Linked DNA regions of Homo sapiens. The protein of the gene in region 2 interacts with the protein of the main gene of each other region in a pairwise test. Each region holds a gene or a part of one and is shown on either strand. Other genes may lie near its edges.

Region 1 (4,556 bases), on a different chromosome or scaffold from region 2:
ATATAACCGTACCACAAATCTCAGATGAGCACTCAATATTGCAGACAGTTAGGCAGACAGTTCTATTATTTTTCCTTCTATAGTCACCTTTCCACTCGCTGATGTGACGATTTCATACCTCTTCCTCTCCCTTCAAATTTCCACTACCCCCTCTCTGGTGACTCTCAACTGATGCTATTGCCTTACACTTAATTGAGAAGCTAGATGCTTTTTGAAGGAAAACAACTCATTTTCCTCCTTGCAAATCCATCAGTCTGCCTACATTTGTATCTACACAGAATGCCCTTTTTTCTTGTTAAAATGGAAGCATTCTGGCTGGGCGTGGTGACTCACGCCTGTAATCCCAGCACTTTGGAAGGCCAAGGTGGGCAGATCACTTGAGGTCAGGAGTTTAAGACCAGCCTGCCCAACATGGTGAAACCCCGTCTCTACTAAAAATACAAAAATTAGCCAGGCATGGTGATGAGCACCCGCAGACCCAGCTACTCAGGAGGCTAAGGCAGGAGAATCACTTGAACCTGGGCGGCAGAGGTTGCAGTGAGCTGAGATAGAGCCACTGCACTCCAGTCTGGGTGACAGATTGAGACTCTGTCTCAAAAAAAAAGAAGCATTCTTACCTAAGACCATTGCCTCCACTCATGCTTTAAGATCCCATTCCCTTGTACCTTCTCCACAACTTTGCAACTATTACAATCCCCTTCATTTTCTACAACATTAGATCTTCCATCTCTAATAGATGATAATGGTTGGCATGTGATCAGGTCATAAAAAGTCATTCACTGAGCCAGGTGCAGTGGCTAACACCTGTAATCCCAGCATTTTGGGAGGCCAAGGTGGGAGAAATGCTTGAGCCCAGGAGTTCAAGACCAGCCTGGGCAACATAGCAAGACCCCATCTCTATAAAAATACAAAAATTATCCAGGAGTGGTGGGGTACACCTGTAGTCCCAGCTACTTGGGAGGCTGAGGTGAGAAGATTGCTTGAGTCTGGGAAGTCGAGGCTGTGGTGAGCCGTGATCGTGTCACTGCACTCCAGCCTGAGTGACAGAGTGAGACCCTGTCTCAAAAAAAAGAAAAAAAATCATTAGTTGGACCCATCCCTTTACCCAGCGTTCCCCTCTAGCCACCATCCCACTTCTCAGTTCCTCGTTCTCTGCCCCTGATGGTTATCTGTACTTGCTGTTTCATCTTTGTCATCTCTTTTTTTCTTTTTTTTTTTTTGAGACAGAGTCTCGCTCTGTCACCCAGGCTGCAGTGCAGTGGCGCGATCTCAGCTTACTGCAAGCTTTGCCTCCTGGGTTCACGCCATTCTCCTGTCTCAGCCTCCCGAGTAGCTGGGACTACAGGCACCCGCCACCATGCCCAGCTAATTTTTTGTATTTTTAGTAGAGACGGGGTTTCACTGCGTTAGCCAGGATGGTCTCGATCTCCTGACCTCACGATCCACCCACCTCGGCCTCCCAAAGTGCTGGGATTACAGGCCACTATTAACTTATTGTCAAAATACATCACTCTCTAGGATCCTGACACTACACTTGCCCTGTTTCCCCTTCCACTTTACTGGATGCTCTTTTCCAGTCTCCCTTGCTTGTTCTTCCTCTCTACCATCTCTAAACAATGCTGTATTTTAGGGTTGCATCCTCTGCTGCTGCTGTTTCTTTGTCTTCTCTCTGCTCAGTTTATCCTGCTCCATGCTTTTAAAATTCATCTACAGTTGATACTCATTATTTGCAGATTCTGTATTTATGAATTTGCCTACTTGCTAAATTAATTTGTAATCCCCAAATCAATATTTACACTGCTTCTGTGGTCATTCATGTACATGCACAATTAGTGAAAATGTGTCTTCTGATGCTCTCGATCTCAACTGAGGGTGAATAAGGTGATGCTCTATCTTTTTGTTTCAGCTCTCATGCTGAAACAGTCTATTTAGTGCTACATTTTTTTTTGTATTTTTGTGCCTTTTATTTGTGATTTTGCTGTTTACAGTGGCCCCCAACTATAGGCTGAAGTGTTATCTAGTATTCCTAAGTGCAAGAGGACTGTAATGTGCCTTATGGAGAAAATATATTTATGAGACAAGCTTCATTCAGGCATGAGTTAGTGCCGTTGGCTATGAGTTCAATGCTAATGAATAAAATATATATATTAAATAAAGTTTCTTTAATCAGAAACACACATAAAAACAAGATTATATATTGATCAGTTGATGAAAATATGACTATTTACAACAGTTGCAGGAACCTAACTCTGTATTTTCCCTAGGAACAATTGTTCAGTATTTGCTAATTCATTGTTCATGGTGACTTTATAGAACAGGACTACTGTGAATAAGAATCAACTATATATATTATCGGATCTAATTTATATGTTTGAACTCCGTACTCATATATTCTACTACTCTTCAACTCTATGTTTGGATGTTTAATAGGTATTTAAACTTAACATGTCCCAGACAGAACTCATGTTCCCTTCCAAAATCTTTCCAATCTCAATACATTGTACAATTAGTTATCTATCCCATGCACAGGTCAGAAGCCTAAGAGTCATCCTTCATTGTTATTACGCCTGACATAAGTACTGATACTCTGTCATCAAGTCCTGTCAATTCTAGTTTCTGTATATATCTTGAATCCAAGTGTTGATCGCTATCTTACATATAGCCCCAGTCCAAACTACATCTCTTACCTAAGCTACTGCAATAGCTTCCTAACCGATCTCCCTGCCTCCATTCTACCCTTCTGCCCATGTAGATCCTCTACGTAGAAGCCAGAGTGAGCTTTCAAAAGCACAAATTGTATCATGTGACTCCATTGCAACCAGAATAAAGTTCAAACTCCAAGCAATGGTCCTCTATCATCTGGCACCCAACTGTTCTCTGACATCATCTCTCCATGCTTTGTTTTCTGTGTTCCCTCCTCATCAGCCCTTGTCCTGTTCCTTAAGAATACCAAGCTTGCATCTTTCTTGGGACCTTTCTGTTTACTGCTATTTCCACTACAATGCTCCTCCCTCATTTTCATGACTGCTTTCTTTACATCACTCAGATCTTTCCAATGTGGCTACTTTTTGAGCAGCTCTCCTATTCATTCCTTTAATATTGCCCTTTTTATTTGCATGCTTGTTGCCTGTCTTCCCCAGGTAGAATGAAATTTTCTTAAAGACAGAAAACTTTATCTTTTTTTTTTTTTGAGATGGAATTTCGCTCTTGTTTTCCAGGCTGGAGTGCAATGGCACAATCTCGGCCCACTGCAACCTCCGCCTCCTGGATTCAAGCAATTCTCATGCCTCAGCCTTCCTAGTAGCTGGGATTACAGGCGTCTGCCACCATGCTTGGCTAATTTTTGTATTTTTAGTAGAGACAGGGCTTCACCATGTTGGCCAGACTGGTCTCAGACTCCTGACCTCAAGTGATCCACCCACCCTGGCCTCCCAAAGTGCTGCTGGGATTAGAGACGTGGGCCACTGCGCCCAGCCAGGATCCTCAGTATCTTTAGATATTATTTTAATAATATTCTTATACATCATAGAGTTTCAGTAAATAGTTACTGACTTGACTCTTGATTAACTGGGGACTCTGATAAAGTATCATACATGGTTGACTGGTAGAAAATGAATTAGGTTCCGATAAAGAGAAAAAGAGAAAAGAAAACAGTAATTTGTTTAAAACAAACCTAAAACAAACAGAAACCCCTAATACTATGTCACCATATATACAGTTATTGTTTAGTTCTATAATAATTTTTCAATAAGTAAATTATAACTAGGTAAATATGAACATTAAAATTTAATACCTCTTTGACTTGTGCCTGGTATAATTTGTTATTTGAATTGTAAAGGATGCTAATTTTATCTACCTCTTTTGATCAGGAATAGTTATCTAATAACTACAGCCTGTTTTCTTAATGGAAAATTGATATTAATTGTTCCTCTGTTAGGAAGAAGAAAGCATGTAGGCCATTTTGAAGCACAAATACAGTTTAGAGTCCTTAAAAATGGTGTTAGCATCATGGATTTATGTGACCACATGATTGTCAACTCACATCTTTTGGAACTTAGTCTAGGCATTTATAAAGCAAATTATTTTACATATTAAGCTTAAAAATGGTAGAGTAAGTAAGATAATCTCTAAGCATTAAATTCATGATCTATAGGACAACCAGGTTATCAGCAAGCAGAATGGAGTGAGTTCAGATATATAGAATCTTAAGTTGGAGGGAATTTTGCTCCCGTGAGCCATAGTACAGTGAATAAATTAAGTGTAATCTGGATTAGAACTGAATACCAAGACAGACAGACGTTTGACGATGTTTGTGATGTCCTGATGTTCTTTAATCATATATCTGATATTCTTATATTCTATTCCCTTCAGGCTGGCCCTCACTGCCTTGAATAAATTTGAAGAAGCAGTTACAAGTTATCAAAAGGCATTAGATCTTGACCCTGAAAATGATTCCTATAAGTCAAATCTGAAAATAGCAGAACAGAAGTTAAGAGAGGTATCCAGTCCTGTAAGTTGTTAATGCCAAATGAGTGAAGTATTTTCTGTCATTCACA
Region 2 (5,612 bases):
TTTTTACACGATTAAGTCCATTACTAACAATGATAATAACATGTACCTTAAACTGTATCTGAGAATCAATGAAACAGGCGTATATATGAGATCAGTGGGTCTCAAACTCGTGAGTCTCAGTCATCGATGTTCTTAAAAATTACGGAAAACTCCCAGGAGGGTCTGCGTGTGTGGGCTGTGTCTGTTCATATTTATCACACAGAAATTAAAACAGAGAAACCTACAAATTATTAATTCCTTAAAATAATTAAATACTCATTACAAACACAAAATGTAGTGAGAACAGTGACACTGCTTTCTATTTTTGCAAACCTTTTTGCTGGCTGGCTGGCTTAAAACAAGCCAGCTAAATTCTCACATCTGCATTTAGCCTGTTGCAGTGTGTTGTTTTGGTTAAATATATGTATTTTTAAAATTACAACCTATATATAATTATGGGGTTAATACTACTCCAAAATTCAATAACTTTCGAAGTCTAGTTACGATGTGGAATATGAAATCATATTAAGATTTTTACACTGTTGCATTAAAATGTACTGGTCTATCGGCCAGGCGCAGTGGCTCACACTTGTAATCCCAGCACTTTGGGAGGCCAAGGCAGGCGGATCACTTAAGGTCAGGAGTTTGAGACCCGCCTGGCCAAACATGGTGAAACCGTGTCTCTACGAAAAAATACAAAAATTAGTTGGGAGTGGTGGCGCATGCTCCTTGGGGGCCGAGGCTGCAGAATCACTTGAACCTGGGAGGTGGAGGTTGCAGTGAATTGAGATCGTGCCACTGCACTACAGCCTGGGCAACAGAGTAAGACTCTGATTCAAAAAACAAAGATAAATAAAGTTAAATAATATCTCCTGGTCTGTCTTGCTCTCTGAATGGATCTTCCACCCGTTTTTGTAACAGTGTGGATTAGTCATTTGGAAAATACTACTCCACTGGATTGTACTGTTCTACCAAATATTGAAAAATTTCACTATACAATATCAAAAAATTATATATAAAACCACTGATCTCCTCAGTAAATTTTTTTTGAGATGGAGTTTCACTCTTGTTGCCCAGGCTGGAGTACAATGGCACGATCTCGGCACACCACAACCTCCACCTCCCAGGTTCAAGCGATTCTCCTGCCTCAGCCTCCTGAGTAGCTGGAACTACAGGCATGCGCCACCACACCCGGCTAATTTTGTATTTTTAGTAGAGATGGGGTTTCTCCATGTTGGTCAGGCTGGTCTCAAACTCCCGACCTCAGGTGATCCTCCTGCCTCGGCCTCGCAAAGTGCTGGGATTACAGGCATGCGCCACCGCACCCGGCCAAGTAAAATTTTTAAGTACTAGGAAGCTGTCAAGCTCCTGGCGGTAAATGTAAGTTTTTCAAAATTCTAATTTTCACTTGAGGGCTTGAATTTTGTCATTTGCAACAAATACTGTCAGTTGTTTTCATTTTCATTATTTAGTTCGTTTTACCCAAATACGAGTAACTATGGTTTGTGAGTCAGTCTTAACATATAAAAAGAGTGTTCTGGAGAGCAGCCGCTAGCTCCGCCCATAACTCAAACAACTGCACAAGTGTTTTTCCTTGAACCAAGCACCGTACTTCAGTACACAGCAGAAGTGCTTTTTGTATGAGCACGCATACTCACACAGGATACTAAAAAGGCACATTGAGATTTACTAAAATTATTATTATATCAATGATATTCGGAAATGCAGCTGGCCTTTGTCTTCTGAGTGAGTGCTGGTGAAGAATGCAGTGACTACAGTATAACTGGGTGCTGATGCCTCGATTTATGCTAAGGCACCAGCCACTTTACTCCCCTGATTTTACACACTCAGTGCAATGTCAACACGGTCAAAGAGGCAAATACTGTATTAACCTGACTATGAAAATGAGTTTAAACTGGCAGACCTCCTCAAAGAGTGGCTAGGAGTGGGACCATGTGTTGAGAACTATGGTAGCCAGTGATGATTCAGAGATGAGCATGGAATTAGACCTCAAAGTCTGGTCAAGGAGGGAGAGGGGAGATAAACAGTGCTGTAGGAGAAGCACTGTGGAGTCCCTACTGCCCCCAAACACAGTGCACCACTGTGTCCCTGTCATTCCAGCACAAGCTACATGTCTCTGTTGACATTTCCCTCACGGTGTGAAAAATTACTGTGCACTTCCTTATTCATCTTTTATCCCCCAAAACCTAACACAGAGCCTGGCATACAGGAGGTGCACAACAAATGTTTAAAAAATAGCTATACACAAATACAGCAGCAACCAGGCGTGGTGGCTCACGCCCTAACACAGAGCCTGGCATACAGGAGGTGCACAACAAATGTTTAAAAAATAGCTATACACAAATACAGCAGCAACCAGGCGTGGTGGCTCACACCTGTAATCCCAGCTACTCGGGAGGCTGAGGCTGAGGCAGGAGAATCACTCGAACCCAGGAGGTGGAGGTTGCAGTGAGCCGAGATTGCGCCGTTGCACTTCAGCCTGGGCAACAAGAGTGAAACTCTGTCTCAAAAAAAAAAAAAAAGTGGAAACAACCTAAATGTTGATCAGCTGGTGGATAAAGTAAAATGTGGTCTGTTCATACAATGGAATATTATTTGGCAATAAAAAGGAATGCAGACCCATACATGGAACGGCACGGATGAACCTGAAAACGCCATGCTCAACTGAAGAAGCCAGACAGAAAAGACCACATAGTTTATGATTCCATTTGTAGGAAATATCCAGAAAAGGCAAATTAAGTAGAGACAAGGAGTAGATTAATGGTTGCTTATTGGCTGTCTAGGGCTGAGGCAGAGAGGGAGACTTTGGGGAGATGATCGAAGGCTATGGACTTCTTTTTGCAGTGATAAAATATTCCAAAATCAATTTTTGGATTATACTTCAATAAATCATTACAAAGAAAATATATAAAGTGACCTAAGGCAGAAGAGAAAGTGGGAAGTAATTCTAAATGTGCCCTCTAACAGGGGAAGAAACGGGATTGGGTCACCACGAAGTCCAATGAGTAAAAGAAAAGGCCAGGCCTGGCACAGTGGCTCACACACGTAGTCCCAGCACTTCGGGAGGCCAAGGCAGGAGGATCTTTTGAGCCCAAGAGCTCAAGACCAGCCTGGGCAACACAGTGAGATCCCATCTCTAAAAAAACAAACAAACAAAAAAAAAAACACTTTTTAAAAAAAATTATCCAGGCATGGTAGCACATGCCTATAGTCCCAGCTACTTGGGAGGCTGAAGCAGTAGGATCACTTGAGCCCAGGAGACTGAGGCTGCAGTGAGCCGTGATCACACCACTGCACTCCTGCCTGGGTGACAAAGCAAGACCCTGTCTCAAAAAAAAAAAAAAAAAAAAAAAAAAAAAAAAAAAAAAAAAAGAAAGCCAACTTTTGCAGGCGTCACAATAGAGAGACCAGACGGAATAAAGAAACTGAAGATGGAATTTCTTCCAACATTAGCCGCATTACTTCTTATGGAGTAGACACTTACAAAATTAAAAGAGTCAGATTAGAACCAGAAAGAAGTGAAGTACTAGGTGAAGGGGGTGGGGGGAAACTAGAAAGAGTTGGCCCTAAGGTGAAGGTTAACCAAGAGAAATATGCCAGAGTGAAAAGTAAGCAACTAAAGCTATCACTAGGCCAGTCACTGCCGGCCTATCATTCATCCTTCTAAACAAGAAATTTCATCTCACCTTGTATTCATCCAACCAGACATGTGCCAGCCGCAAAGAGTTGTGTGTCATGGTGTCCTGGCCTTCGGGAGATCCATATGGTCGCCTTTTTCGGAAAATGTGTCCTACTCTAGAGCAAGGGATGATGAAGAGCTTACCGCCACACATCCAGATCTGGCCAGAAGCAAAAACAGGTGTTAACAGTTGCCTCATGTTGTTGTGAAACCAATGTATGAATTTTCAATGAAATTAATCTTTATTCAATAGGTGTTTATGAAACTTGGCAAGATATTTATCTTATTAGATACAAATATTCAAATAGAAGGAAATGAGAAGGTACACATTGTTAGAAATTGTCTGTCTTTATCATTACAAGGAACTAAATGCTAAAACAATGCTATAGTCAGCATTTACTACCATAAGTCTGAAATTGCACTTACCCAACTTTGTTGCTTTAACAGATCAAGAGACTTGATCTTAGGCACTTAAGAACAAGAAGTGCTTATTTTTATTTATTTATTTATTTATTTTCTTTTAAGAAGTGCTTATTACCTGTTCTCTCATTTTAGTTTCACAGGTACTTGCTTATACAATGCATATTCTTTTTTGGAAAACAGATTTTTTAATATAAAATATATAGAATAACTCCAGATTAAGATTCAAAAGACCTTAGCTCTGGTCTAAATTCTGTCCTTGACTATCTGAATTACTTTGGAGTTAAGTTCGTTTTTGTGGGATTAGATTGCCTTATCTAAAAAGAGACTGAACTTTTAATAATAAAATCTATTAAATAAGAAGCATAATAAAATCTATTACGCCTTTAACCCTAACATTCTAAAACTTACAGAATGAAAACCTGCTTTTTCTTTTTTTTTTTTTGTTGAGACACAGTCTCGCTCTTGTCCCCCCGGCTAGAGTGCAGTGGCGCTTGGCTCACTGCAACCTCTGCCTCCCAGGTTCAAGCGATTCTCCTGCCTCAGCCTCCCGAGTAGCAGGGATTACAGGCACCCGCCACCACGCCCAGCTAATTTTTTTGTATTTTTAGTAGAGACGGGGTTTCACCATGTTGGCCAGGCTGGTCTTGAACTCCTGACCTCAGGATCAGCCCACCTTGGCCTCCCAAAGTGCTGGGATTATAGGCGTGAGCCACCATGGACCCAGCCAAAACTTGCTTTTTAAAAATACTGTAGTCAATACATTTGCAGAAATACAGAAGGACATATGAACAAGTATCATGGTATTATCTGATAGGGATTCTGCTAACTGGACTAGGAGATGGTTGGGAGAAATACTGGGATATTTGCTTGGAAGGAGAAGTCTCAGCTCTCCCCTCGCCCTCTTTCTGCCTTTCCCAAAGACTGTCTACACCATGGTCCTCTGAGCCACAGACTCCACCTATGCTGTCACCTTTCAAACCTTAGCAATTGGAGAAGACAGATAATGCGAGGTGGATTTCCTCCTCGGGACAGGGGTGCCTGTATACACAAAGGACTTGGTAAGCTATACATGGGGTGATGGTATAATGCAGCATCAAACTGAGCTGTTTCTGAAAGTACAATGGGAAGCTATTTATTTTTCCAAGAGAACAGGTATGAACTAGGATGGTCTTAGGCCTCAGGGAAATCTGGTCACCCTGACTATATGACTATATGTATCTGGTAGTATCAATAAAATAAACCAACAAAAAAAGAACAAACCTTTAAATTAGCACATTAAGACATTTTAAATTTATATCCAACCATTCATTACAACAATACTTTTATAATTTAAAAAAATATATATATATATATACACACACACACAGAGTGGAATAACAGATACTGGAGACTCTAAAAGATGGGAGAGGAGTGAGGGATGAAGTACTACCTGTTGGGTACAATGTGCATTACTCTGGTGATGAGTGCACTAAAAGCCAGACTTTACCACCACACACTATGCACTTGTACC

What was found. The genes of interacting proteins can lie anywhere in the genome.
Region 1: the proteins of GALNT11 (region 2) and SGTB interact in binary tests that used the Homo sapiens proteins (3 or more experiments, as listed by UniProt).

Annotation. Positions count from the first base shown.
Region 1 is NC_000005.10:65,680,610-65,685,165, reverse strand, and holds part of SGTB (small glutamine-rich tetratricopeptide repeat-containing protein beta), read left to right. Parts: intron 1-4,371; coding exon 4,372-4,510; intron 4,511-4,556. UniProt on the Homo sapiens protein: Co-chaperone that binds directly to HSC70 and HSP70 and regulates their ATPase activity.
Region 2 is NC_000007.14:152,111,473-152,117,084, reverse strand, and holds part of GALNT11 (polypeptide N-acetylgalactosaminyltransferase 11), read right to left. Parts: intron 3,840-5,612; coding exon 3,687-3,839; intron 182-3,686; exon of another isoform or gene 47-181; intron 1-46. UniProt on the Homo sapiens protein: Polypeptide N-acetylgalactosaminyltransferase that catalyzes the initiation of protein O-linked glycosylation and is involved in left/right asymmetry by mediating O-glycosylation of NOTCH1.